Homo sapiens: one gene and its partners. The protein of the gene in region 1 interacts with the protein of each later gene in a pairwise test. Each region holds a gene or a part of one and is shown in the gene's direction. Other genes may lie near its edges. The genes, in order: FIGLA, LHX8, LHX6 and TCF23.

The links.
Region 2: the proteins of FIGLA (region 1) and LHX8 interact in binary tests that used the Homo sapiens proteins (3 or more experiments, as listed by UniProt).
Region 3: the proteins of FIGLA (region 1) and LHX6 interact in binary tests that used the Homo sapiens proteins (3 or more experiments, as listed by UniProt).
Region 4: the proteins of FIGLA (region 1) and TCF23 interact in binary tests that used the Homo sapiens proteins (3 or more experiments, as listed by UniProt).

Annotation. Positions count from the first base shown.
Region 1 is NC_000002.12:70,787,644-70,795,440, reverse strand, and holds the start of FIGLA (factor in the germline alpha), read left to right. Parts: upstream 1-4,797; 5' UTR 4,798-4,802; coding exon 4,803-5,033; intron 5,034-7,639; coding exon 7,640-7,792; intron 7,793-7,797. UniProt on the Homo sapiens protein: Germline specific transcription factor implicated in postnatal oocyte-specific gene expression.
Region 2 is NC_000001.11:75,151,375-75,158,395, forward strand, and holds part of LHX8 (LIM/homeobox protein Lhx8), read left to right. Parts: intron 1-5,518; coding exon 5,519-5,702; intron 5,703-7,021. UniProt on the Homo sapiens protein: Transcription factor involved in differentiation of certain neurons and mesenchymal cells.
Region 3 is NC_000009.12:122,211,954-122,218,974, reverse strand, and holds part of LHX6 (LIM/homeobox protein Lhx6), read left to right. Parts: intron 1-1,686; coding exon 1,687-1,907; intron 1,908-4,538; coding exon of another isoform or gene 4,539-4,549; exon of another isoform or gene 4,550-4,591; coding exon 4,592-4,692; intron 4,693-4,905; coding exon 4,906-5,001; intron 5,002-5,194; coding exon 5,195-5,369; intron 5,370-5,578; coding exon of another isoform or gene 5,579-5,739; exon of another isoform or gene 5,740-7,021. UniProt on the Homo sapiens protein: Probable transcription factor required for the expression of a subset of genes involved in interneurons migration and development.
Region 4 is NC_000002.12:27,144,081-27,152,014, forward strand, and holds the start of TCF23 (transcription factor 23), read left to right. Parts: upstream 1-4,923; 5' UTR 4,924-5,053; coding exon 5,054-5,275; intron 5,276-6,042; coding exon 6,043-6,285; intron 6,286-7,934. UniProt on the Homo sapiens protein: Inhibits E-box-mediated binding and transactivation of bHLH factors. Inhibitory effect is similar to that of ID proteins. Inhibits the formation of TCF3 and MYOD1 homodimers and heterodimers. Lacks DNA binding activity.

The DNA of each region.
Region 1 (7,797 bases):
GCTTTTTGAAACAGAGCAACAATAAGAAATTGGTAAAAGGTCCTTTAGCCTTATCCTGCTTTTTGCACCATTGACTCAGAGACCTAGTGTCTGTATCAATCAGCAAACTAGACAGGGATCCCCTTTCTTCAAGGCATTGTGTTTTGAGATAGCTGTGTGTCCCCATCCTTACTCCAAGGGTGGACTCCATTCGGCTGGCATTGTACTGGACTACAAGGTATTTAGGACTCAGGAAACAAAAAAGCAGTAAAGAGAGGATGTTATCAGTTGCATCCCAAGAGGTCTGGTCCCACAAAGGAAGAGCAATAAGCAGGAATAGCAAACACAAGGAGAGCAATGCATTCTGGGACCTAAAGATGTTCACATACTTCAGGCAGCCTGGAACAGGAAACTCCCTACTAGACCCATAGAGCAGTATAGGATGAATGCAACTGAGCCAGTACTGTGTATATCAACCATAGTATATCACCAGCATCTAAGAGGACACTTATCCTTCAATTTTCCATGGCAGAGAGATCTTCCTACTTTCTATGTAAACTTAGGTAAGCTTTTTCATTCATCTATTTATTTATTCACAAATATATATTATAGGGTCAAGCAGCTATGGCAAAACGTGAAAGATTTTACCTGAATAAGCAGGTTCTTATTTTACCCATGTCAAAGTAGCTTTTTTACTTCATTGCAAGCATCATTCATTCATTTGCCTTCTCACTCATTCAACAAATGTTTATTGCATGTCTACTGTGTGCCAAGCCAGCACTCCGTAGGTGCTGGAGATGCTGTGGCCAGTGATCCTCCTTCAAGGAGCCAAAATAAGAGAAATAAATGATCTCGCAGAGGCTTATGGGCACTACTGGAGCACAGAAGAGGGGCACTAGGACAGAGACTCCTGTTGTCAACCAAATGCGTTCTCCCCATTGAACAGAATTGTAGCCAGGCACATGGCTCCCCAGTCAGACTACATTCCCCCACCCTTTCTTGCATCCGTGTGTAGCCATGTGTGAATTCCTGCCAATGGCATGTGAGTTGAATCCTATGTGCCACCTCTGGTCAGGCCTTAAGATCTCTTCCGTGCCCTTCTCCTGGAACCCAGATACGGTGGCTACCGAGCCTCAGCCATGCCAATGATGACAATGCTGTAGGGGAGTTGACCCTAAGGGATGGAAGAACAATAATTTGGAAGGAACCTAAGTCCCCAAGTGACCTTGAGGAGCAGAGCTGACCTAAACCTTTCACACTGTTAGAGGATAGTGAAACTTTTTGTTCATTAGGCCATTGTATTATTGGGTGTATGGCAAGGTATCAGCCCTAAGTCACCATCAGGTGTAACACTTTAGCTTAAATCAGTTCACATGATTGCTTTCCCTGAGAACAATGACATAACGTATGAATCTAACAGACCAGAGGCCAGAAAGTTAAGAGTTGGAGTTTATGGAAGAACACAGGTATGAAGGAATCAAATCTGGTGTGCTCACAATGGGTTCCTAATGTACACCACCTTGTTCACTGCAAGGTTTGGCAATAAAATAGAATAATATCAATGATGTCCTTTATGATGCTTTCAAGGAAAGTTAAGTAAATGGGTAAGCTATCTCCATTTTAAGCTTTTTCCCACACTTTTGGCCCTTGTTGCTTTCCATCTGCCTGCCAGCAGACAACACCAAATGAACTTAGCGCAAACAAAGTATTTTCCTACTTAAAAATATATTTTAAATTACAGAAGTGGCCCGTGTTTATTGTGAAATAAGCTATATAGAGGATGTGATGTGCAGTCACACTTCCCCATTCCCAGGCCATGCTCAAGGAACCTCAGTCAAACATTTGGTGTGTCCCCTTCTTTCCTTTGACCTTTCCTGGGAGGCAATGTCAGAGTGGGAGCTGAAGAAGGGTGGGGCCTAAGAGGTGGCTGATGTGGTTAGAAAATTGGTTAGGTACAGGGATTGAGCAAATAAGTAATTACACTGAGGATAATGTGAGTCAAGCTTCTCATTGTTGGAGAAGGGAGTTACAAAAGCAGATATGGGGTGAGGAGTTACAAAAAAGGAAAGCAGAGAAACTAGAGGGAACCTGAGGTGTTGGGTTGGAGTTGGAGGTATTAGTGTGAACTCATGGTTTTAAATATATATGTACTTAGATACACAGATATAGTTATTATATGCATTATATTATATTAGAGGATATTATATGCATTATTATAATATAATACATGCATGTGTACTTACCTACATATGTGTCATATCTGCAAAAAGGGCTTAGAAGCAATGACATCCCAAAAGGAATGAGCAAGCAAGCACACAGATCTTGGTTTCTAAATCCTACCTTCCACTAAAAGAAGAATAGACTGATCCCTGGGCTGGGGCTGGGAAAATTCAAGAAGAGCCTTCCTGGGACAAGTGAGAAAGTGCACAAAGAATGAGGGAGTCATATGAAAAGGACAGAGGAGCCAGCTTAGAGGGCCTCCCATAAGCCAAATCTGAGACAATTTGAGCATTAACATAATGATGTAAATAAATTATATCCTGTGACTAAAATAGAAATTCATGAGCCCATGCTGACATAAATACAAAATGAATAAATAAATGGGAAGAAGGGAAAGCTCTTTTTCACAGTAGAATGCCAATCATTTGCCTCTAATTGTAGTGCTGGTTGATTCAGGTAGGAGTCAACAATGGATGAGAAGGAGTATCTCCTCACAAAATTTTTTTTTATTTTTATTTTTTGAGACGGAGTCTTGCTCTGTTGCCCAGGCTGGAGTGCAGTGGCACAGATCTAGGCTCACTGCAAGCTCCGCCTTCCGGGTTCACACCATTCTCCTGCCTCAGCCTCCTGAGTAGCTGGGACTACAGGCACCCGCCACCGCGCCCGTCTAATTTTTTAATATTTTTTAATAGAGACAGGGTTTCACCATGTTAGCCAGGATGGTCTCAATCTCCTGACCTCGTGATCCGCCCGCCTCAGCCTCCCAAAGTGCTGGGATTACAGGCATGAGCCACCGTGCCTGGCCCACAAAATATTTATCAATTTATGGTGAAAAAACCTGACACCACCACCTTGACCAGGCGATTAAGGTTAACATCACCAGTGGTGGGGCAGATCAACCTCATGTACTTCCTGATGTGATGCACTGAGAAGAGCCCAGCATCATTTATATGGAGCCCCTCCATGAAGGCATGGCTGGGGTCTGGACATGAGCAAATAGTGGACAACCCCAGGTCGAGGGACATACTACAGAATGAAAGGCCCCTACTCTTTTAAACTGTCAAGGGCATGAAGACAGGACAAGATGGAGGAAATGGTCCAGAATGAAGGAGAGTAGAAATATGACAACAGAATAAAACTTGTACTCCTGGATTGGATTCCAACCAGAAGAGAAAAAGACATTGTTGAGACAGCTGGTGGTACTTTGATGGGGTCCATGGATTGTATGGTAGCACAGTACCAATGCTTACTTCCTAGTTTGAGTGGTTGTGTTGCGGTTATGTGGAAGAGAGGCCTTGTTTAGGGGGAATACCCACTGGAGTATTTAGAGGTGATATGACAGCATGTCTGCAACTTAAAAACTTTAAAAAAAGAATAGATCAATGGATGCAGCTAGACGTCATTATTGTAAGGGAACTAACACAGAAACAGAAAACCAAACATTGCCTGTTCTCACTTTATAAGTGTGAGCTAAACATTGAATACACAGGGACACAAAGATGGAAACAATAGACACTGGGGTCTGCTTGAGGGGGAAGTAAGAGGGGGGCGTGGGTTGGAAGGATACCTATTGGGTACTAGGCTCACTACTTACGCCACGGGATCATTCGTACACCAAACCTCAGCAACACACAATTTACCCACTTAACAAACCTGCACATATACCCCTGAACCTGAAACAAAAGCGTAGAAAAAATATTTTCTCAGACCAAAGAAAAAAAAATGTATTTCTATGCTTGGAAGGAATGATTTTACAGAGGGCTTCCAGAAACATGTCTGATTTTCAGGTGCAAGATCAGAATGTTCCAGTTATATTGATAACCTCCAGAGAAACAAACTCTCATGAGTAATCTACTCAAAACAGAAGATGTAGTTAATTATTTCTAGAGTACTAAATTGTACTCTACTATTAAACAAGTTTGGGATCGCTATTTTCCAGCACATTTTCTGAAGTAACAACTGTGTTTGGCTGTGTTGACAATAAAGGTCTGTGTGGAAAAGGGGGAAAATGAATAAAGCGATGTATCCCCCCACTCGCGAAAAAAGAAAATAGTTCAAATAGAATGGAAAAAGAATAATGAAAATGAGAATATTCACAGCGAGAAAGAGGGCAACGGAGCAAACGTGAAAACTTAGCAAGTAGAGAGCGTGGCGAAGGGGGTACAGGAGCTCTTAGAAACTCTTCTTGCCATTTTCCCCGCAACTTTTATTTCAAAACGAATTCTTAAAAAAGTTTTGTGGATATCCATCACATTTTTCTGTATACACATAGCCAGAAGCTCAGGCCCCAAGACAGATTGATTAAATGGGAATTTGGGGGACTGGAACCGTGGCATGTGGATTGAGAAAAACACCACTACCACGCTCCCGGCGGTTCCAGGTGTGCAGCCGGGGCTGCGCTCCAGCGCTCCCGAGTCACACCTGTGCGGCTTATTCAACGCGATGCCTGGACGCAGCCTCCAGAGAGGAGGCCGGGATTGGAATACGCAGCCGGGGAATGGTTGCAGGTGGTCCAGCTCCCGCCCCCGCCCCGCCCCCGCCCGGGCCTCGTGCGGCCCCGGGTGCGCAGGTGAAAGCCCGGCCTCAGCGGCCTCGGCCCTGCCATGGACCCCGCGCCCGGCGTCCTAGATCCCCGCGCCGCGCCGCCCGCGCTCCTGGGCACCCCGCAAGCCGAGGTGCTGGAGGACGTGTTGCGGGAGCAGTTCGGGCCGCTGCCCCAGCTGGCCGCTGTCTGCCGGCTCAAGCGGCTGCCCTCGGGCGGCTACTCGTCCACTGAAAACCTCCAGTTGGTGCTGGAGCGGCGGCGTGTGGCCAACGCCAAGGAGCGTGAGCGGGTGAGGGATCCCTAGGGTCGACGTCCGTTCCCCCCTTCCCTGCTCTACCACCAAACACCTGGTCAACACCCGGGGGTCCGCTCACCGCCCACCCCCGCTCGAGGCGACTTCGAGCTCCCGAGGCCTCCCACGCCCCCAGCTTGTCAGGAGAATGGCAGTGGCCTCCTTCTTCTGCACCTCCGTGCAGCTGCTCGTTGGCGGCCGCTGCGGTGGCCGCCTCGCCCGCTAACCCTCCAGGATTTGTGCAGGACCCGGGTCTGGGAGGGGACAGAGGAGGGGCCCTGACAACTTCAAAAATGTCTCCCTGGGCAGGTGCTTTAAAAGCTTCGCGCCCAGGGGGTGCGCCTTCATCTCACACCGTAGGCGCTGGTGGGTGCTTGGGACGCGCAGGGATCCCCTTCGCTCCTTTTTCTTGCTCTCTGCATCTCGGCCTCGAAGCACACACGAGGGTGAGGAGAAAGGGGGGCCTGACGGAAGTGACTTTTCTTTTTTAAAGTAACGAAACACGACGTCCCAGTGTGCACCCAAGACTCCCACTCAACTCTGTCAAGATAAAGTGAGTGTTTCCCAGTCGAGCCGCAGCAACTCGCAAACGGGAAGGGTCCTGTGGGCCGTGGTTGGAGCGGCACCTGCTGGTAGATTTTACTATCTAACGAAACTCAGCCCCAAACTTGGGAGACATGGTCTCCTTCCTAGCGTTTGCAGTCTACGGGTTTGGTTGCAGCAGAGGCGAATCCAGGAGAGAGAAGGGTGAGGGGTAGAAGAGGGAGCAGAGCGCACGTTCAGGACTGGGACTGGGGAGAGAAGTACCGCCCGGGGCTGTTCCTAGGCCTTTCAGAAATGTCCCAGTGAATCAAGTAGGAGCTTTGCAGGGAGAGGGCAAGCGCAGAAAGGACGACAGGAGAGTAGGAGACTTCTTTAAGTCTCCTCTTTTACCAGTACTAGACTCTTGATGGACAGAACCCTGTGATCTGATTCGGTGGCCCTACAAAGAGATTATGATCTAATAGTTTAAGTGGTCCTTCCCACCAGGAAGGAATTGTCTTCTCCAGAGAATCAGTCCTGGTTTTATCCACTAAAACACGAATAAGCTTTATTATTCTTTATAATGATAAGGTTAACACACTTGGAAAAGACAGAAATGAGTGAAGAAGTTAAGAGACACAACACAGATATAACTACTGTGAACATTTTTGTGTATATCCACCCAGTCTTTTTCTAGTTTTGTGTATTCATATATATATATATATAATTTTTACAAAATATTCAGTACATATTTGTGTAATTTTTTCCACTTAACATTATCAAAAGCATTTTCTTATATTCTTAAGTATTCTTTCAAAGAATAGTTTTTGACTGCATAGTCTGTCCAAAAATGGACCATAATGTATTCAGTCTCTTATTGTTAGGCATGTTTGCTGTTTGTAGCTTTTTACCGGTACCTATCGGTGTAACTCTATGTGCGTGTCTGATAATTTCCTTAGAATAAAATGCTACAAGTGAAATTACTGAGACTTAAGGCATATACAATGGAATGGCTTTTGATACAAGTTACCCAATTGCTTTCTAGATAGGTTTACTAATTTTTATCCCTTCTTACAGGTCTAGGACTGTTCTCTTTTTCAAGCTATCCCTTATCCTGGGTATGATAAAACAAAAATGTTACCACCTTGATACATAAAAAATGGTATCTAATTTCTGTTTTAGTTTGTAGTTCTTTGATTATTAAATTCTTTTTATACACTGAGTGGTTGTTGTATTCTCCTGTGAATTGGCCAACTATGTCCCTTGTCTGGTTTGCTCCAGGGTAGGATATACTCAATATATATTGGCTTTGTGGCATAGTGGGAGCCAGTTCTCCCAAGGCCTGTATCTCCCAGGGGGATGAACATCAGAATTATAGGCCTTCAGAGACAGGGATTAGACTCTGGAGAAGAGAGAAAAATAAAATATGAGGAGCCTTTGAAGTCTCACCAACTCTCTGGATTCTCACCCTTGCCTCTATATCATTAACTCAGTGGGGAAAGAGTTTGAAGAGCTGATGGCTCAGTGCTTGAGTTGACAAGTATTTGTACATTTGATTCATCACCAGCAATACCACTTCTTGAGGACTTTCTATGTGCCAGGTTTGGGTGAGGTATCTTATTTGTACATTATATCACTTAATCACACCCCCCAAAAAGCTTTAAGATATTTTCCATTTTGCAGATGAACAAACAGGCTTAGTGATGTGAAGTATTCCACACACTCTTGTAAATGATAGACCTGGATTTTAAACCTGGGTGTAGTTAATTCATATTTTAGCCACTCCTCTACTGCCTCCGCATTATGATACAGCGGGTATGCTCTCAAAAGAAGAGGAGTGAGCTCAGCATGAACATGAACACACCTTGCAGCCCATCTGCCCATAGTACCAAGTTTATGCCATTCCCTCTTCCTTTACTATGAACTGCACTGCTGGTGGAGCACTGACTCTTTGGGGCATATGCCTGTTTAGATTTGCCACTCAGACAAGGAGGCAGTGGAAACAACCCCCTTCTGTAGCTTGGGGAGATGTCTATACAAATTGGCTTCTCTGTGTGTTACTGTGCCTTTTTGTTTTCTAGATAAAAAATCTCAACCGTGGTTTTGCCAGATTGAAGGCACTTGTGCCATTTCTTCCCCAAAGCAGGAAGCCCAGCAAAGTTGATATCCTTAAAGGTGCGACTGAATATATACAGGTTCTCAGTGATCTTTTGGAAGGAGCCAAAGACTCAAAGGTAAA
Region 2 (7,021 bases), on another chromosome or scaffold:
TGAAAAACATACTACCTCAAAGGCTACCAGGGTTGTGAAAGATTTAGATCATGCCATAATATTAAAGGCAGCAGGGATATTTATCTGGAGATAAGGCCAGGAGATGGTAAGAGAAAGAGTAATATCCAGAGTAGGTGTCTTTAAATATTTGTGAAAGGCTTCCCTGCAACGGAATGTAGAAAAAGGCACTGGTGTTCACTCATAATGAATTTTCTCATTATTGAAAGGCTACACAAATGGCACGGACTACCAAGGAAGGTAGTGAGTTTCCTCTGCCTGGGAGAACAGTTTTCTTTGGCAGGTAGTTCCGACTCCACGGGCTAAAAGTTCCTTCTAATTTAAGACTCTGTATATTCATAACAATGATAGCTTCAGGTAAGTCAGATGCATGACTTATATCATTTTGAAGTTGGAAGCAAAGAAGAAGGAGAGTTTTCTTAGAGCTTTTCATATTTGAAGGACTAAGGAACACAGGCAGACATCTGTCATGTAATTTCCAGGCATTTAGGTTACTAGTACTATGAGCAAGTTAACTTTGTCCTAAGCCCTACCATTTGGAGAATATATTTTGAATGTTGGCTTTCAATATGTTAAGGTTGAACATTAAATATTTTTGATATGATTCCAAAGGAAAGAGTACTAGCATGCTTATGTGTTTATTATTTGTATCTATACATAGGCTCACTATATGTTGTAGCCCTTCAGAGTATTTTATAAGAATTACTGTGATCTCAAATAGTAATCATACTTTCCCTCAGCCTCCTTCCTAGCATTGGGCATAATATTTTAGAAAGGTAAGAAAAAAGAGTTTTTATTACTAGACTTCTTCTAATATGCAAACTAGGTCACCCAAAGATTAGGAGGAAACTGGTGTGATACGTGGAGAGTTTCACGTTTCCTAGTTACAAATATGCTTAGTAAGACATTTGTAATAAAGCAGACTGTCCTTATACTGAAGTCAAAGAATAAAGATGAGTGATTTTTTTCCCCACACACTGCATCCAGATACAATCACTGTTCACATACTCTTTCAGATAAGTGAATTATGATTTTTATGTTGTGCAGAGACAGAGTAAACTATTGCTATTTCTTCCAATCAGTGTACTAGGAATACCCTTCCATATTAACATCATATTTATTGCCACATATATTGAGCATAGCACAATTTATTTAGCTTCCAATTTTTCACTATTATAAAATGCTGCCATGAGCAACATTGTATATCTACCTTGCGTGCTTGTTCAATAGTTTCCTCAGGATAAATTTCTGGAAGGGAGATTGTTGAGTCCAAAGATAAAACATGCATAGGGCCTTTATACAAACATGAAATCTCTTTGCCTTTGAGAAAGTTCATACAACTTTATTCTGCCAGGAGCTACGTACAAGAGTTCCTTTTCCCCAACTCAGAAGAATCCTGAATACTGTTACTCTTTTACATCCTTTACAATTTAATAGTTAGAAAAGAAAATCTCATTGATTTTATTTCTGTTTCTTATATTATCAATGAGCTTGAACAAATTAGTTTATTTTTTCATTTTTAAGACCGTATGTTTTTAGCTCACTCTTCTGTTGGGTTATTTTCTCTATATCTTACTGATATTTATTAATCCTATCTGTCATGTTAACCTTTCACGGTTCATCAATTTCCTTTTTATTTTTTCCACACAGAACATTTATATTTCTATGTGTTTAAATCTCCCAGTCTTTTGATAGTTTTGGCCTTTTTTTTTGTTTTGTTTTTCTTTTTTTGAGATGGAGTCTCACTCTGTCACCCAGGCTGGAGTGCAGTGGCACGATCTCAGCTCACTTCAACCTCCGCCTTCCGGACTCAAGCGATTCTCCTGCATCAGCCTTCTGAGTAGCTGGGACTACAGGTGCGTGATACCACACGCAGCTAATTTTTGTATTTTTTGGTAGAGACGGGGTTTCACCATATTGGCCAGGCTGGTCTCGACTCCTGACCTCGTGATCCACCCACCTCGGCCTCCCAAAGTGCTGGGATTACAGGAGTGAGCCATCACGCCTGGCCTTTTTGTTTTGTTTTGTTTTGTTTTTTGAGATGGAGTCTTGCTCTGTTGCCCAGGCTAGAGTGCAATGGTGCAGTCTCAGCTCACTGCAACCTCTGCCTCCTGGGCTCGAGTGATTCTCCTCCTCAGCCTCTCGAGCAGCTGGGACTACAGGCACCTGCCATCATGACTGGCTAATTTTTGTATTTTTAGTAGAGATGGGGTTTCACCATGTTGGCCAGGCTGGTCTTGAACTCCTGAACTTGTGATCTGCCACCTCGGCCTCCCAAAGTGCTGGGACTACAGGTGTGAGCCACCACGCCGGGTCTAGTTTTGGCCTTTCTTATGCTTCCCTATCTAGAGAGTATTTCAATGTTGCCTTTTGTTTTCTTAAACTTTTATTGTTTCAATTATTTACGCCTAAACTTTAATTTATCTGGCTTGGTTCATGGGAGATAGGGTTTTATCTATTTTTTTCTCTCTTTCAAATGATAAACTATCAGTTTTCCCTAAATCAGTGAAACATGCTTTCCCAATAAAATAAAATCCCATCTTTGTCATATACAAAATTATTATATTTGGCTTTTTGTCTGGGCTTTCTAAAGGTTTCATTCTCTGCATTAGTATTTTGCTTTTCCATTATATCTACATGGCCTGATTTTAGCTTAGTTTATGATTTAGAAGTCAAAAAATTTAAAGTAGTTACTCAGAAAATGTTAACTCTTGTTGGAGGTTTGCAAACAAGAAGGAGGAAATTTTGTCAGTGAGGAGAGTCAAAAGGACTTATACTTGATTCTGAAGCTGGGTAGCATTCATGCCAGAAGGAATTTCCTGATGTCTGGAATCTTAAACTATATTTTGCTCTACCAGTTAGTTACATGATACTTTGTTTTTGCAAACCTCCTTCTGCTTGATTACCTGTGGATGATCTTTCCAAGAAGCTGCTTAACAAGATAGTTATTCTGCTGTTTATATTATACCTTCTTCATGTTTATTTACAAAGTTTGAGTGTTTTTTTTTTTCAATCAAAAGATGGTGTTTCTTTTGTTTTACAACTGCATAGGTTCCATTCAATATATAACTTATTGGAGACAAAAAGATACTTTGAAGAAACTCTGGGAATCATAGTGCAACATGTTTTAGGTTATATGTAGTCCTCTGGCGTATGTGTCTTCTGGGTCCCATAAGGGAAAAAGGCCGGTGGCAGTGGTTCCCCCTTACACATTGGAGAATGTTTGAGTAATGTCATCCTATTTGGGTGAGACTAGTGTTAGTAGTGACATCTATTGTTCCAGAGCCTGTGGGCAGAACTGTGGAGTTTGGGGTGTGGTCTATAGGTATCTCTGAGTCTCACTAACACTCCAGAGAACAGGGATGTGGAGGAGGCTGTGACTTCCCACTTGTCTTACTGGTGGATACCTAAGTCTTGTCCCAGAAACATTCCTTAGCTGCTACTTTTCAGCCTCCTGCTCAAGGCTATATACCCCACTAGATTATTAATTTTTTATTCTTTTAGTTTTAATCACTCTTGAGAGTATACTTTGCCAACCTTCTATTTTTGAATGCCAGGGGCAGGGTGTAGTTCTGAAGTAAGGCCAGCTTTTTCTTATAAATTCTTTGCAGCTTCCTTTTATTTCACATTAATCAGCCCTGATTGCCTTGTGCCATCAAGGCCCTACCACCAGCCTTGAACAGACTTATGCCCCTGATGTTTTCCTGGCCTCATATCCCTGATCCCAAAATGTTCTCATGCTAAGTTTTTATCCCTTCGCCTCTCTTTCCTCTCATGACAGAATTGTTTGGAGTGATGGAAAAAAAGTGATACAGTATTTTAATGAAGAAACACTCTCTTTTTTTTTTTTTTTTTTTTTTGAGACGGAGTCTCGCTCTGTCGCCCAGCCTGGAGTGCAGTGGCATGATCTTGGCTCACTGCAAGCTCCACCTCCCAGGTTCACTCCATTCTCCTGCCTCAGCCTCCCAAGTAGCTGGGACTACAGGCACCCGCCACCATGCCTGGCTAATTTTTTGTATTTTTAGTAGAGATGGAGTTTCACTGTTTTAGCCAGGATGGTCTCGATCTCCTGACCTTGTGATTCGCCCGCCTTGGCCTCCCAAAGTGCTGGGATTACAGGAGTGAGCCACTGCGCCCGGCCCATGAAGAAACACTCTCTATGGTCAAGTTTTATCACCTGTCAGGGAATTCAAACACAGGCATATTAGCTACTGGAAGCATTCTGGGCAGCCTAGACTTACTTGCCCTGACCTGGATGTAAAGCTCCACTTGCCCTGAATTTGCTTCTTTTATTTCTGCAGTAGAGTGGACAGCAGGGTGGTTAGCACTTTACATTTTGTGAACTCTCATCAGTGGATGTGTTTGTATTTAATTCTACTTAAATATTATGAGTTTTTTTCTTATTAAAGACCTGACCTTAACATGCTTCTTAGGGAATAGCCTATGTATTCACCAAGAGAAATTGAACTCAGCAGGTTAAAATCTGACTGGAATAACTGAATCAAGAGGTTTGTAGAAAGCTTTAAGTTCTCAGTAGGGATTTTAGTCATTTGAACAAGGATTTGAAATAAGTCCAGCAGGTGCCTAAGAATACATTTAGTAGTCTTTTTTTTTTTTTTTTTAAGTTCTGATTAAAAGAGCTTTTTCTGCTTTTCCTTTTGTCCTAAATACCAGTAGTAAAACCAAGGAGATTTCTCTGGAATTCTTGAGGGCCCTTCCCCACCTTTTCTGGGGAAGATGCTGTTTTAGTATAGAATTGGCTTTTATTTTTATTTTTAAAAAATCTAATGGAGTTTTTGGGGTACTTTTGTTTGGGCTTTGTTGTTGTTGTTGTTGTTGTTGTTTTGTTTTGTTTTGTTTTGTTTTTGAGACAGAGTCTTGCTATGTCGCCCAGGCTGGAGTGCAGTGGTGCAATCTGAGCTCACTGCAACCTCTGCCTCCTGGGCTCAAGTGATTCTCCTGCCTCAGCCATCCGAGTAGCTAGGATTATAGGTACCAACCACCACGGCCAGCTAGTTTTTGTATTTTTAGTAGAGACGGGGTTTTACCATGTTGGCCAGGCTGGTATTGAACCCCTCACCTCAGGTGATCTGCCTGCCTCAGCCTCCCAAAGTGCTGGAATTACAGACATGAGCCACAGCACCCAGTCAAATCCAATAGAGTTTAATAATTGCATTCAAGGGGTAACCTTAACGTTTGACCAACTCAAATTCAACAAACCAAAATCCCTTAAGCAATTGGTCCCCTTTCCTACTTAAATAGAATTGGCTTTTAGGTAAATCACCAGAGAGCTATCAACTGAGCAAGAAAAATGACCACTGTTATTTGGACTAAAATGTTTCTTTTCTGTCTATAGAACTTTTATAAAAGCTGAGTTACATTTATGCGGTGCTTGTGTGGTAGTGTGATTGAGGTTGCATTCATTTTTTAACTGAGTTGATAATGTGCTCAGAAGCTGGTGTGTAACCTACCTACTTCTGTTGCTTTTCTCCCTGCTCAGGTGTGGTTTCAGAATTGTAGAGCACGCCACAAGAAACACGTCAGTCCTAATCACTCATCCTCCACCCCAGTCACAGCAGTCCCACCCTCCAGGCTGTCTCCACCCATGTTAGAAGAAATGGCTTATTCTGCCTACGTGCCCCAAGATGGAACGATGTTAACTGCGCTGCATAGTTATATGGATGGTAGGTATCCCAACATTTAACAGCTGTCTCCCAGGCAATCAGCAACTGGTAACTTCTAATATTAGATTATTGATACAATTCACATTTTGAAATATTACCTCAGTAGTAGCTGAAAAATATTGTGGGGGGTGCAGTAGAGAGCAAAATTATCCAAACATTTTTATTTCTGTGATTACATTTTAAGGAAGAAGTTTAATACTCACTTTGCAGCTAAGATGCAAATATTAATAATGACTCAATGCTTGATCTTTACTTAGAAATTTTTTGTTTGTTTTTACCGGTAAATATTTAAATACTTTATTTCCTGTGATCAGAGCAAGTGTTCACTCAGATCTTTAGATGGGAGTTTAATAAGTTTTGTTAAAGAGTTGTTTTTTATAGAAGAAAATCATACATTTAGAAGAGTGCATACGTAATAACTATTCAGCTTGATGAATTAATAAAATGAATGTATCCATATAGATATTGCCCAAAGTAGCAGATATAATTAGCATTTCAGAAGCCTCTCTTATGTCTCCTTCCAATTATTATCCTTTTCTCCCAAAGTAACATGGCACTGATTTCTAAAACCACCCTTTAGTTTTGCCCTTTTTGAACCACACAGAATGTATTTTGTGTCTCACTTCTTTCAATTACATTGTGAGATTCACCTATATTATTGTGAGAATCTGTTATTTGTTTTCATTGTTATATAGAAATCCACTGTAGGAATATACCACAATTTATCCATTTCCTGGTTAATAGATATTTGTGTTTTTTCCAGTTTGTGCTTTTATGAATATGCTGCTATGGACTTTATTGTACATGCTTTTTGTGCACATTAATTCACATTTCTACTAGATATGTACCTGGGAGTGGGACATAAGGTCATGGGCTACACATATGCTCAACTTCAGTCATTCTGACAGATAGTTTTTCACAGTGGTTGAACCAGTTTACACCTTGACCAGCAGCAAGGTTCAAGGTGCTTCACATCCTCACCAACACTTGGTATGGTGTAACTTCCTGATATTAGCAAATTTGATGATTGTGCAGTGCAATCTTATTTTAATTTGCCTTTCCCTGATGACTGAGCATTTTTTCATCAGGTATTTGTATATTCTCTTTTGTGAAGAGCTGTACAAGTCTTTTTGTCTTTTGGCCTACTGGCTTGTCTTTATTATTTATTTAAATGGATTTGCTTAATTTCTTCATGTAATCTGCATATAAAGCTTTTTGATAATTGTATGTGCTTAGAATATTTTCTCCTACTTAGTTGCTTGGCTTTTTCTACTCTCTTAATGGAATGTTTCATTGAGCACAAGTTCCTAATTTTAATG
Region 3 (7,021 bases), on another chromosome or scaffold:
GGTGGAAGGGGTGGAAGAGAAGAGCCAGAAACGAAACATTTACAAACCAGTGTGGTCAGCGCTGAGAGAGCGGTGCAGGGTGCCGTGGGACTCTGGGGGAGGGTAGGTCAGTGCAAAGGCCTGGGGGTGGGAAAGTGCTTCAGAGGAGGCCATAAAGACCTGGGAGTGACCTTCCATTGTGGCTGACTGGGACACATGCCTGGATGGTGGGGCGGCATATCTTGAAGGTTAGGGAGGAGATGGGCCTGAAGAGGATGTGGTCGCTTGGGTTTTGCAAACCCCAAGGGTTTTGGACCAGATCCTGAGGGTAGAGTGGAGCCACCATAGGATTGTAAGCAAGGCAGAAACAGGATTTCATGTGCATGCTGGAAACTTTGCTTTGACTGCTCTGTGGAGGATGGGTTGGCAGGGGCGAGACTGGAAACAGGGAGACCGGGGAGGAGGTTGACAGTGAGGGTTGCATGATGGGAGCCTGGCCTAGGAGGGCAACAGTGGAGATGGTGAGAAGGAGATGGATCCCAGAGATACTTGGGAAACAGAACCAACAGCATCGATGATTGGCTGGATGAGGGGTTGAGGAGAGAGAGGAGTGCATGATTATGATTTTCAAGCTTCAGGGGCTGGGTAAGTGGTGGCACCATTCTCTGAAATAGAGGGTGTACCAGAGGAAACAGGCTGCTAGGGTTGGGACAGAGTCACAGGTGAGTCATCCACTTTAAAGAACACACTTTCCCTGGTGCCCGGGATCAGGCCCTGGGCTGACTTCTGGGATGGAGTAAACCAGACTCCGCTGCCTCCTGGAGGGGCTTCCAGTCTGGTGTTGGAGGCAGCTGCACCCAAATTGCCAGACTACAAAACCAGAAGGGAGAAGGAGAAGTCGTAGAATCAAGGAAGGCTTGAGGGGCAAGAAGACATTCGATCTGGGCTTTTTATTTTTATTTTTGTCTTTTTAACATTTGGTATTATTAATAGAATGTCACAGGCTCCAGAGGGACTTGCTGGGTACTTAGCCAACTGCAAAGCACTAAACAAACAGTAGTAGTCATTGCTGTTGTCATCTAGTTCAGTGCAGGACAAGGAAAACGAGAACTCAGAGTTAAACAGTTTGCCTAGTGTCACAAAGCCAGTAAGTGCTTATCTGTCTGTTCATCTAAGAAACTGCACTTCTGTACAGCTGGCGCTATAGCTTATATTCATCTCTGGAGCAGGATCGCTAGGGTTCCTATCATTGCAAGCGGTGTGACCTCCTGCAAGTTACTTTACCTCTCTAGTCCCCATTTTCCTCACCTGCAAAATGAGGATTAATTGGGATAATCAATGTAAAACAATTAGAATCTTGCTGGGCAAGTGGTAAGTGCTCAACAACTTGCTTATTATTACTATTATTGTGTTTTTTCTAACTTGTGATGTATTTTTAACAAACAAATTAATATGCAAATATAAGTGACCATCGTAGAAAATTTGGAAAATTCAGAAAAACACCAAGAAGAAAATAAAAATCACCCACCAGTTCATCTCCTAGGTGGGACTAGGTGTAGAGTGTTGTTGCGTCCAAGCTAAGGCTAATGCCTGAGTTGAAGACTTAGAGGCCAGGAGCCTGGGGGCTGGCGGGCCATTGGGTGGTGGAAGGAGGAAGGTTGGCCTGTCTGAGTCTCGACACCCCGTGCCTGTCCTCTCGACCTGCAGCCGATTCGGGACCAAGTGTGCCCGGTGCGGCCGACAGATCTACGCCAGCGACTGGGTGCGGAGAGCTCGCGGCAACGCCTACCACCTGGCCTGCTTCGCCTGCTTCTCGTGCAAGCGCCAGCTGTCCACTGGTGAGGAGTTCGGCCTGGTCGAGGAGAAGGTGCTCTGCCGCATCCACTACGACACCATGATTGAGAACCTCAAGAGGGCCGCCGAGAACGGTACCCAACCTGCTCCGCCTGGCACCTCTGCCCCCAGCCCTTTCCCACCCCACCCCACCCCAGCACCCCAGGAACCACCCACACTCCTCTACCGATTGGGCCCTCCCGGTATAGTCCCGCAGGCAGCGTAGGGGTGGGGCGGCGAACAGATCTTGCACTTCCGGGTCGATCTTTTGCTTAGGAGTCAGAAGTCACTGCCCTCCTTTGTAACTATGTTTCCTTATCAGTAAAATGGCGTTAACAACAGAACACCTTCCCAAAGATAGATGAGCTAGCTGATGTGTTGTAAAGCCAGGAGGCACTCAGTGAACCCTAGAGATGGTTCTCATAATCGGGCAGCCTACTCCACCTTTGGACAGCTCTCATTGGCCTGGGGGCTCATCCCCTCCGGTTGCCTGGGACCAGGCTTGGGCCAGTCCTGGAGAGATGACTTGGCTCCCATTCTCCCATTTCCTATCCTAGCAGCTCCAAGCCAGAGGTTTGAGGAAGGGTTTTCATCCTGGACCAGGGTCTCTAACTATAAGGGGAAAGGACCAGGTTTCTGAGTCTGGAGACCAGGCTCTCCCATACTGTGTTGACATATGAGGTTTCCTTTTCTCTCTGGGCCTCAGTCCCTACATCTGTGCAAGACAGATACTGGACTAGAATGATCCCTAAATCTCTTCTGGCTCTGACATTGTGATTCCCCAGATTGCCCAGGAACAAGATCCAGGTCTTCCACGGATCCTGGGGACAGGGTCACAGATGGGATGGAGCTGGGAAAGGGCAGTGCTTGGCTGTGGGCAGAGGCAGGGACTCTTTCTCTAATTTCCCTGTTAGGGTCTGTGAAAGCTGCTAACTTCTCTGTAACAGGGATTATTTTATGTAATCCTTACAACAGCCCTAGGAAGTAGGTGGCACGGCCCCATTTTACAGAAGAAGAAACAGGATTTGCCAAAAATTACATACTAGTAGATTTGCCTAGCTCCAAAGCCCAGCCTCTTAACTACCATACCATACCATATCATACCATACCACACCACCTTGGCCCTAAGCTCTAGGGCACCTTAATCAGATCTCATAAAGCCAAGGAGGCTTCTGGGATGTAGCTGCCTCTGTTTTAGTTTCCCATCTAAAAAACCAACACACCAATCCTTGCCCTGCCTGCTTTCCTAGGGGACATTAATACCACAGAGTGTCTGCCCAACCCCCAGTTTTTCTGGGGAGGAGTATGAACCACCCTGCCTCAACTTCTAGGTCCCAGCCTGGAGACTAGTCAGGGACCGCAAGAGTGTTCCTGGCCATGGGCATACCAGGGCCATCATTTTCTCCTGCCAGGATCAGGACTAAGTGGGTCTAAGGGGGCATCTAGTGAACTTGGGTTTCACTTGCTGCCTGCTTATCTGCAGTGATGGGCAATGAAATTATCTGCAGTGGTCAGCAAGTCAGCAGTAGAGCTGGGATGGAAACCCAGGAGTCAGAGCTTTCCCACACTGTGGTCCATCAGCGACCACAGGCTCCTTCCACACATGGTCCAACCAGGACCACCTGTAGTTACAACCTTGCCAATTACATCCTAGCTCTCACAGCCACACCTGTCCACAGACTTAACATGCTGAGGAACTTGAAAGCTGGGGCCTCCGATCTCTCTTACTGATCAGCCCTCAGTATTGGCTACTGTTTCACTTTTTAAACATAACACACACACAGATACACACACGTTCATTGTAGAAAAATTAGAAAAGACGGTAAGCAAAAAGAAGAAAATAACGATTGCTCCAAATGCTGCCTTCTTCATATTTTAATGTGTATCTTCTCAGATTTTTTTCCATGTATGTTACAATGTTTGCTTTTTTCCTTCAACATAATTTTTTCCTAATTAAAAAGTTACAATAAATTGTGAACAATGGTTATTTCTGAGTGCTGGAATTACTGGTGATTTTTATTTTCTTCTTTGTGCTTATGGAAATTTTCTGAGATTTTGAGGATATTCAGAACAATGAAGTATTAAAAATAAAATGGGAATATGGTTAGTGTTTTAGTATGACTGTAAAAGTAATATGAGTGGAAAGAGAATATCTAACATATACGCCGGTTAACAAAATTAAACCTTACAGAAGTAAGGCAACATATGATTGTTTTTAAATACCTCAAAAGTTACAGGAATACTGAAAGTAAAAAGTTTCCATAATCACATTCCTGGGAAGTAAACCACTGCCAACACCTTGTTGTATATTCTTACAACCTTTTTTCCTTCCGCTTATTTTTATAAAATTAGGAGCATAGTTCCGTTACTTGCTTGCTTCCTATCTCCTCTAGCCTTTGGTGTCCCCCAGTTTCGCCAGCAGGGAGCCCAGTTTGGGACATTAGGGTCAGCTAGCTTTCGGATTCTAGTTGAAAGGGCCAGGGCAGGGGCTTTCCTTCTCTCTGAGCCTCAGTTTCCTCCCATGTATAATGAGGTAACGCCACCTCTCCTTAGGGCTGTAAGACGTGGTCCAGTCGTGTAAGAAGTGTCCAGTACTAAGCGGACGCTCAGAAACCCCTTCCCCAAAGACTGAGCTCAGGGACTAGGACCCTGGGATCCCTGCTCCCAGCCAACTCCCGCTCCTGACCCTTCCAGGGACAAGCTCCCCCCACCCCCGTCCTTTCCAGGCTGCCACTAGAAGAGATGGGGACGCGTGGTCAGCTGCTTCTATCGCCCCCAGGGAACGGCCTCACGTTGGAGGGGGCAGTGCCCTCGGAACAGGACAGTCAACCCAAGCCGGCCAAGCGCGCGCGGACGTCCTTCACCGCGGAACAGCTGCAGGTACCGCTGCAAGCAGTGGGCGGCGGGGGCGGGGGCCGGGCCGAAAGTGGGCGGGGCCGACAATGTCTCCTGGCTCCGCCCCTCGGGCCGGACCCGGGTGGCGGGGCGGGGCCGCAGCTGCCTGGGGCGTGGCCTGTGGACTGGCGCCGCTGATTGGGCCGGGGTCTCGGAGTCTCTGCGTGCGAGCGCCTCACCGCCCTCCCCGCCCCGCAGGTTATGCAGGCGCAGTTCGCGCAGGACAACAACCCCGACGCTCAGACGCTGCAGAAGCTGGCGGACATGACGGGCCTCAGCCGGAGAGTCATCCAGGTGGGACGGGGGTGGGCGGGGCCTGGGGACCGCGGGCACGCCCCGGAGCTCGTAGCTGGGCTCGGCGCGGAGGGTGGTGCGTGCACGTGGCCATCCTTCTCCAGGAGGCGACGAGGCAGTCCCGCCTGGGGTCTCCCGGCGGCGCGTCCGACTCTTTTCCTCGAGGCTGAGGCTGCCGAGGCTGTCGTTCCAGGTGTGGTTTCAAAACTGCCGGGCGCGTCATAAAAAGCACACGCCGCAACACCCAGTGCCGCCCTCGGGGGCGCCCCCGTCCCGCCTTCCCTCCGCCCTGTCCGACGACATCCACTACACCCCGTTCAGCAGCCCCGAGCGGGCGCGCATGGTCACCCTGCACGGCTACATTGAGAGTAAGTAACCGCAGCGCCGGGAGCCGCTGGGCCTGCGGGGAGGGGGCGCGGAGGAGCGCACGTGGGCGGCTGAGGCCGAGGCGTGGGGTGGAGGGCCTTGGGGAGCCTCGTGGGTGAAGAAGCGGGACCCGAAGTCATTTGGATCTAGGAGTTGGGGGAAGAAGGGTCAAATCTTCGGCTCTGCCTCAGTGGAGCGGGATCCTTCATAGAGGCAAGCGATTCAGCAGCCATTCAAAAAATGCCTTCAAAGCACCCACAATGTGCCAGTGCCCGGAGACTGGGGAGAGAACAGGCTGGACAAGGTACCTACTCTGTGGAGCCTGCGTTCTGGTGGGCATGGAAAAATAGGCAGATGAGTGTGTCGTTTTAAGTGGGATGATTCCTGTAGGAAAGGTGCTGGGTAGGAGTGACTGGAGATGCTGCGGGGTGGAAGGGAAGGGGCTGGGCTGCCTTTCAGCAAGCAGAGACTGAAAGGATGGATAGGATTTAGTGAGGTACCTGGAGTGGGGGAACGGAATGCACGCAGGCCCTGGCCCAGAAAGCATCGTGGCATGGGTGTGTTCTGGGGAGCAGAAGGCCAGTGTGATGGGAGTGTCCAGGGCTGTGAGGCCTTAGGCAAGTCACCTAACCTCCTTGAGCCCTGGTTTCCTCATCTGTAACCTGGGATGTCAATAATGCCAGCCTCACAGGGTTGTGAGACACCATTCATGCATTCAGTAGCTATATCTTGAGTGCCTTCTGTGTTCTTTGCACTGGGATACGACAGTGAACACAGTAGACCAAAGCTTCTGTGCTCCTGGGGTTTGCACTCCAGCATGGGAGATGGTGGAGATGATAAAGTAACAGGGAGGGAGCAGGCATGTCCGTGGCAGGGAGTACTGTGGCGGAGATGCAGGGGCAAGCGGGTCATGGTGAAGTGACTTGTGAGCGGGAACCTGGAGGAGTGAGGGAGGAGCCCCGGGGATTTCTGGAGGATGAGTGTTCAGTGAATCTGCTGCTGAGCAGGTGCCTATCACAGATTGTCTTTCCCTTTGAAGTTGTTCCCATCAATTGTTTCCTCTAAGCTGGGCATGACCAAAAAAATGTAAATGACTGCGATGCACACAGACACAATTCCTCCCTTCTCTGGCTCCATGTAAGAGGGAAAAAGAAGGGAAATCAGACAGAGAACTGCTGCTTACTGACCATATGCCATATATTCTACTGACTGTGTCTCTAAACATCAGAGGCCACCATCTCCTTGAATAGATGAGGAAACCAAGGGCCCACTGTAAGTTAGTGGGAGCCGGTATGCCTTAATGATCGAGTGTGGGCTTTGGTTTCAGATTGCCAGGCTTCACATCCCAGCCCTGCCATTTACTAGCTGTGTGACAGTGGGTGAGTTTCTTAGCTTTCTTGCATACTCATTCCCTCATCTGTAAAAATGAGGACAACAGTATCTCAAAGCAGTGTTCTGAGCATCAAACGAGGTAACTGAAAATCCTCAACATTCAGCAAGTGCCGCATAAGTATTGGCTGCTCTTGTGATGGTGGGAGTGGTTTTGGTTGGCAGAACTAGGAGTGCAGAGCCCTGTCTTCGCACCAGGCTGCCAGTTGGAAACCATGTCTCTTTATATAGTTCCATTTCTGAACTATCTGCTCAATAGGAGCGA
Region 4 (7,934 bases), about 44 Mb from region 1:
ATCCTTTTCATTTATGTATGGTCAGTAGTGATTTCCCCTCTTTCATTTCTTATTTTAATAATTTAAGTCCCCTCTCCTTTATTCCTTGTCAATCTAGCTAAAGTTTTATCAATTCTGTTGATCTTTCCAAAGAACCAATTTGTGGTTTTGCTAATTTTCTCTATTGTTTTTCTATTTTCTTTCTTTCTTTCTTTCTTTTTTTTGAGATGAAGTCTCGCTCTTGTCCCCCAGGCTGGAGTGCAATTGTGCGATCTCAGCTCACTGCAACCTCCGCCTTCCAGGTTCAAGCAATTCTCCTGCTTCAGCCTCCTGAGTAGCTGGGATTACAGGCGCCTGCCACCACGCCTGGCTAATTTTTGTATTATTAGTAGAGACGGGGGTTCACCATGTTGACCAGGCTGGTCTCGAACTCCTGACCTCAGGTGATCCACCCGCCTCGGCCTCCCAAAGTGCTGGGATTACAGGCTTGAGCCACTGTGCCCGGCCTGTTTTTCTATTTTCTATTTCATTTATTTCTGCTCTAATCATCATTATTTCCTTCCTTTTGCTTACTTTGAGTTTAGTTTGCTCTTCTGTTTCTAGTTTCCTAAAGAGGTTAGTTACTGATTTGAAATTTTTTCTCGTTTTCAAATTTTTTTAACTTTTTTTTTTTTTTTTTTTTCTGAGACAGAGATTTGCTCTTGTTGTCCAGGCTGGAGTGCAACAGTGCTATTTCCACTCACTGCAACCTCCGCCTCCCGGGTTCAAGCGATTCTCCTGCCTCAGCCTCCCGAGTAGCTGAGATTACAGGCGCCTGCCACCATGCCCGGCTAATTTTTTTGTATTTTTAGTAGAGATGGGGTTTTGCCATGTTGGGCAGGCTGGTCTCAAACTCCTGACCTCAGGTGATCTGCCCGCCTCAGCCTCCCAAAGCTCTGGGATTATAGGCGTGAGCCACTGCGCCTGGCCATTTTTTTTTTAAATATAAACATTTACAGCTATAAATTTTCCTTCTTTTTCACTGCTTTAGCTGGATCTCATAATTTTGGTATGTTGTGTTTTTGTTTACATTCGTCTCAAAGTATTTTCTAATTTTCCTTGCAATATCTTCTTTAACTTACTGATTATTTAAGGATGTGTTGTTTAATTTCTCTATGTTTGTGAATTTTCAAAAGTTAGCTCTGTTATTGATTTCTAATTTAATTATATTGTGGTTAGAGAATATTATTTGTATGCCTTCAGTCCTTTTAAATCTACTGAGGCTTGTTTTATTTATTTTATTTTATTTTGAGGTGGAGTTTCGCTCTTATTGCCCAGGCTGGAGTGCAATGGAGCGATCTCGGCTCACTGCAACCTCCACCTCCCAGGTACAAGCGATTCTCCTGCCTCAGCCTCCCAAGTAGCTGGGATTAAAGGCATGTGCCACCACGCCCGGCTAATTTTGTATTTTTACTAGAGATGGGGTTTCTACATGTTGGTCAGGCTGGTCTTGAACTCCCAACCTCAGGTGATCCGCATGCCTCGGCCTCCCAAAGTGCTGGGATTACAGGCGTGAGCCACTGCGCATGTTGAGGCTTGTTTTATGATCCATTCTGGAGACTCTAACATATGATCCATTCTGGAGAATCTTCCATGTGCAATTTAGAAGAATCTGTAGCATTATGTTGTTGAGTGTTATTTGATGTCTGTTAGGTTTAGTAGGTTTATAGTGTTTCCCAAGTCGTCTATATCCTTATTGATTTTCTGCCTAATTGCTTGAAACTTGTAATTTTGAGGATTGCTTGAGTCAGATTCTATCTCTGTTGCCCAGGGTGGAGTGCAGTGGCGCAATCATAGCTCACTGTAACCTGGAACTCCTGGGCTCAAGTGATCTTCCCCTCTGCCCCAACAGCCTCCTGAGAAGCTAGGATTACAGGCATGCACCACTGCACCTGGCTAATACAATTATCATTTGTGTAAATTTAAAATTTATTCATACAACAATGCACAGGCTTCAGTAACACATACTACATTAGTTATCTATAGCTGCTTCCAAATTACCCCCAAACTTAAGCAGCAATAAACATTTATTATCTTCTATGGCTTCTATAAGTCAGGAATTCTACGGGCAAGAGCAATTTAGCTGGGTGATCTTGGCTCAGGGTCTCTCATGGGTTGCACTCAAACCGACAGCCAGGGCTGCAGTCATCTGGAGGTCCAACTGGAACTGGAGGATCCATTTCTGAGGTGGCTCACTCCCACGGTTGGCAAGTCGTGGTGGCTGTCAGTGAGAGGCCTCAGTTCCTCACAACATGGGCCTCTCCACAGGGCTGCTTGGATATCCTCAAGATAGCAGCTGGCTTCCCCCAGAGTGAGCGATCCAAGAGGGAGCAAGGGGGTAACTGCACTGTTTTTATTTTTTATTTTTTTTTGAGACAGTCTCACTTTGTCGCCCAGGCAGGAGTGCAGTGGCACGATCTCGGCCTACTGCAACCTCTACCTCCTGGGTTCAAGCGACTCCTGCCTCAACCTCCCGAGTATCTGGGACTATAGGCATGCATCACCATACCTGGATAATTTTTGGGGTTTTTTTTGTTGTTGTTTGTTTTTTAAGATGGAGTTTCGCTCTTCTGCCCAGTCTGGAGTGAAGTGGCGTGATCTCAGCTCATTGCAACCTCCGCCCCCGGGTTCAAGCAATTCTTCTGCCTCAGCCTCCCATGTAACTGGGATTATAGGCACCTGCCACCACACCTGGCTAATTTTTGTATTTTTAGTTGAGACAGGGTTTCGCCATGTTGGCCAGGCTAGTTTCGAACTCCTGACCTCAGGTGATCCGCCCACCTCGGCCTCCCAAAGAGCTGGGATTACAGGCGTGAGCCACCGCGCCCGGCCTGATGCACATCTTTTCCATCTCCTTTCTATATGTTCACATAAGCACATAAAACTTTACATTTCTATTTTTTATTTTTTGGTGTATTTTTTTACGTGGCTGGGGTCTTACTATATATATTGATCTACAACTAGCTTTTTTCACAACTGTGTGTTTTGAAGAGTTTTTCATGTCATTTAACAAAGGGCTGTCATTATTTTTATTACTGTACATTATTTCATAGTATGGAGATGCCAAAATTTATTTAACGACTTCCCTACTGATGGACATGCAGGTTGTTTCTACTAACCTACCTACCTTTCTTTCTTTCTTTCTTTGCTTCCTTCCTTCCTTCCTTCCTTCCTTCTTTTTTCAAGACCGTGTCTTGCTCTGTCGCCCAGGCTGGAGTGCAGTGGCACGATCTTGGCTCACTACAAGCTCCACCTCCCAGGTTCACGCCATTGTCCTGCCTCAGCCCCCTGAGTAGCTGGGACCACAGGCACCCACCACCACGCCCGGCTAATTTTTTTGTATTTTTAGTAGAGATGGGGTTTCACCCATCTTAGCCAGGATGGTCTCAGTCTCCTGACCTCGTGATCTGCCCATCTCAGCCTCCCAAAGTGCTGGGATTACAGGTGTGAGCCACTGCACCCGGCCCTTCCTTCCTTCCTTTCCTTTCCTTTTTTTTTTTTTTTTTTTTTTTTTTTTGAGATGGAGTCTCGCTCTGTCGCCCAGGCTGGAGCCCAGGCAATCTCGGCTCACTGCAACCTCTGCCTCCCGGGTTCAAGCAATTCTCCTGCCTCAGCCTCCCGCGTAGCTGGGACTACAGGCACGTGGCACCACACCCAGCTAAATTTTTGTATTTTTAGTAGAGACGGGGTTTCACCAAGTTGGCCAGGATGGTCTCCGTCTCTTGACCTCATGATCTACCTGCCTCTGCCTCCCAAAGTGCTGGGATTACAGGCGTGAGCCACCGCGCCCGGCCTCTTTTTCCCTTTCTCTGTGGTGGGCTGCATATCTTTCTCACTGTACATCCACCTTTTTACTTTCTCCTTACTTATTTGATCTCCCCTGAGGTTCGAGAATGGGGGACAAGGGACATCAGGCTGGATTCTGCTACAGGCAGAGGTCCCTGGAAGACAGCAGGGGCTGCTGTGGCAGATTCGCGATTCCTTCAGCCCGCCTTCTCCTAACTAGCTCTTGGAGGATGTGATGCAACTCAGGAACACCATGGTCCTTGCCTTCAGAGACCTCATGTCTAGCATGGGGACAGACGCGTGAGTAACCCATGGGAGGCAGGCTAGCATCAGGTGAGGGGTAGCCTTCAAAGTCCAACTGACGGCTTGGATTTTCATCCCACCCCACCACTTAACGGATGTTTGACATTGGGCAAGTTATTTCACCTCCCAGTATACCAGTTCCCACACATCTAAACTGAGTCTCTTTTTTTCTTAAAAGGTTGCTCTGAGAAATAAATAAGATGCTTAGCACAGTGCCTGGCACACAGTAATCTATGAATATCGAACTTCTGGGAAAGTAGCCAGGCTGTGATTGTACCAATCAAACAGGGACCCATGGGCTCTGGGCCTGCGGGATTTGAAGTCTTCACGAATGAAAGGCGGAGACCTGAAGGATGGGCAGTACCTCCTGGCAGAGCTGGAGGAAGGTATTCTGGGGCGTGGAAAGGTAAATTTAAACACAGAGTGGAAATCGGAGGCATATTTGGGGCATGGCAAATCGCGCTCTGTGGCTGGAAGGTCACGTTCATTGGCAAGGGGAGGAAAGGCCTTTCAGGGATGTATGCAGGCAGCCTTCTGGCACAGACGAAGGAGGTTCAAGTCCTCTCCATGGACGTGAGCTCCAAAGCGGAAGTCACAGGTCCACCATAGGACCACTGTTGAGGTTAGGCATGGCCGGAAAGGAGCTCCCTTCCCCACTATCCTCCTGCCTTCTTCAGCATGGGCCTCCTCCCAAGGCTTGGCCACTCCCAGCATCCAGCACCCCCACCTCTCAGCTGGGTTAGGAGGCAGGCGGAGGCTTTTCGCGGGGGCTGTGCCTGGTGGGCGGTTTTCCCAGAGCAGGGAGCAAACAGGACTGAGTTGGCGCCAGCTTCCTCGGATGTAGATATTGCTGGCTGGATGACCAGCCACAGCCAGCTAGCTTGAGTCCAAGGCCTCCTCAGGCACTGTGTTTCTGCTCTGTGGGCTGCAGCCCCAGTGGGGTGGCATGTCACAGAGGAAGGCCAGAGGGCCACCAGCCATGCCAGGGGTGGGGCATAGCCAGACTCAGGCCAAAGCACGGTTGCTGCCAGGCGCTGACAGGAAGAGGAGCCGCCTCAGCAGGACAAGGCAGGACCCGTGGGAAGAAAGAAGCTGGAGCAACCAGAGATGGAGCAGAGCTACCCCTGGCCCTCGAGGGACCAGGGCTGGGGGCCTGGCTCTTGGCAGGGTAAGGAAATCCTGCACCTGCAGAGGGGTCCAGGGGAGGAAGGGGTTGGAAGGTGGGGAGATGTCACCTCTGATGGTACAGCCTCACTCAGTATTACCATTCCTGCCCAAGAGAGGGGACACTGGCCCCTTAGACTCCAAGGCATCATGCTTTGGGTAGTTGGGATAGATCAGAGCTGGTCTTAACCAGAGTGCAGCTCAGAGAGCTGCACTAACTCACTTCTCTTGAGGAAACTGAGGCCGGGAAGAGGGATGTGAATTTCCCAAGGTCACTGAGCAGCAGCCAGTGGTAGGACTGGGACTTCAGCCTGTGTGCTTTGACCCCTGGTTCTGTGTCTTTCCTCTTTCCCACAGCAGCCTCGTCGTCTCAGGACCTGGCTAGGTCAAGGGTCCGCCCTCCCAAACAGGGTGTAGCTCTGAACTCCCCCTGGCCCCAGCACACCCTGATAAGCAGGATTCAGATTGGGCATGGGACAGGACAAAGGCTCTGAGGAGGCATGAGTGGAGTAGTAGAGAGAACACAGGACTCTGGGTTCTGAGCCAAGCTCTGCCATCCTGCAGCCATCTGACCCCTGGCCAGGCCTTCCCCCAACTTCCTCAGCTGTGAAACGCGGCAGGGCTGCAGATGACGTAGGTGGGCAGAGGCCCTCTGGTGCCTACTGCTAGACACCCTTCTACTCTGGTGGGAGACCTTGTGCTCAAACGCTCTCAGAAGTCAGGGCAGTTGGGAGTCCAGGTCACACACACTCACTGGGGCCCTCTGTGCAGAGCGAGGCCAGTCCTGAGAATGCCGCGCGGGAGCGGAGCCGGGTCAGGACGCTGCGCCAGGCCTTCTTGGCCTTGCAGGCTGCTCTGCCTGCCGTGCCGCCCGACACCAAGCTCTCCAAGTTGGACGTGCTGGTGCTCGCCGCCAGCTACATAGCCCACCTCACCCGCACACTCGGCCACGAGTTGCCTGGCCCTGCCTGGCCGCCCTTCCTGCGTGGACTCCGCTACTTGCACCCTCTCAAGGTAAGTCACAAGCCCTGGGACTTGAGAGGCGGATCTTAATGCCCAGGGCCTTGGAGAAAGGGATTGGAATGAGGGGGGACATTGGACTTGGGCCCCCTGCCCTGTGCAGAACTGACGTCGGAGCCAATTTCTCCTGCTGTCTCAGAGGGAGAGGAGCCAAGGCTGACCCTTGGGGCTGCGCTGACCCTGGGTTTCTCATGGGAGTGTGGCTGGAAATGGCTTCATGGGAATGCACCTCCTTGAAGAGGAGGGAAAGACTCTGGGGTTCTTAGAGTCACAGGGAAAAATGTAGCAGGTTCCAAGTCTGGGGCCTGGGAAAGGAAATTATACCAAGGAGAGTCCTAGATCCCCATGCAGCTTCAGCCCATTGTGCCTGCCTTGGTGCTTTCTAGGCTTCTGTTGCAAGAGAGGTCTGTCCTCCAGGAGAACAACGGTCTGAGGGACCGTCATTCTAGAAGCAACCAAGCTGGGGGAGTTAGCAGGCAGCAGTACAGGGAAGGCGCGCACCACTTGCCAGACTGCAATCTAGCTTTTCTCAACCTCAGTTTTATTACACGTAAAATAGAAGCTAACATGAGCCTTACTTCTCTTCCAGAGTACAAAATGGAAAGTCTAATGAACATTAATCATCTTTGCAATAACAGCTAACAGTTGAGTGCTAAAGATAGGCCAGGAGCTGGGTTAAGTACGTTAGTGTATTTTTGTCTTTTAATCCATGCAAAAACCAAATGAGGATTACTTTACAGATGAGGAAACTGAAGCTTAGGGAGGTTATGAGGCTGAAAGCGGTTTGAACTCAGGGGTGTCTGACTTCAGACCCTAAGCTCATAGCCACTAAACAGTCTCCAGGGACAGCGCCATAAGGAGCTGGTTGAAGAGTGCACTGTGTTAAAAAGGAAGGGTCATCTTTGCCCTCTGAGGATAACATTGCAGTGGTATCAACTTTTTTATTTTATTATTTATTTATATATGTACTATTATTTTTTTGAGACAGAGTTTCACTCTGTCGCCCAGGCTGGAGTGCAGTGGCGCAATCTTGGCTCACTGCAACCTCCACCTCCCGGTTCAAGTGATTCTCCTCCCTCAGCCTCCCGAGTAGGTGGGATTATAGGCGTGCACCACCATGCCCGGCTAATTTTTCTATTTTTAGTAGAGATAGGGTTTCACCACTTTGGCCAGGTTGGTCTCAAACTCCCGACCTCAGATGATCCACCCACTACGGCCTCCCAAAGTGCTGGGATTACAGGTGTGAGCCACCACACCCAACTATTTATTTATTTACTTATTGTTGAGACAGGGTCTCACTGTCGCCCATGCTGGAGTGCAGTAGCGCAATCATAGCTTACTGTACCCTCAAACTCCTGGGCTCAAGGAATCCTCCCACCTCAGCTTCCCCAGTAGCTGGGACTACAGCCTTATGCCACCACACCTGGCTTTTTTTTTTCTTTTTTTTTTTGTAGAGACGGGGTCTCACTTTGTTCCACAGGCTTGTCTCAAACTCTAAGCTCAAGTGATCCTCTCACCTCTCAACTTTATTTTTATGATACTTTTCACCACCTCTTTCCCCTAAATGTCATAGTTCTGAAATGTCTTAAAACTTGGTTTTTTTCTTCAATGCAAATGTAGCTAAAATGTATAAATTTGAGACT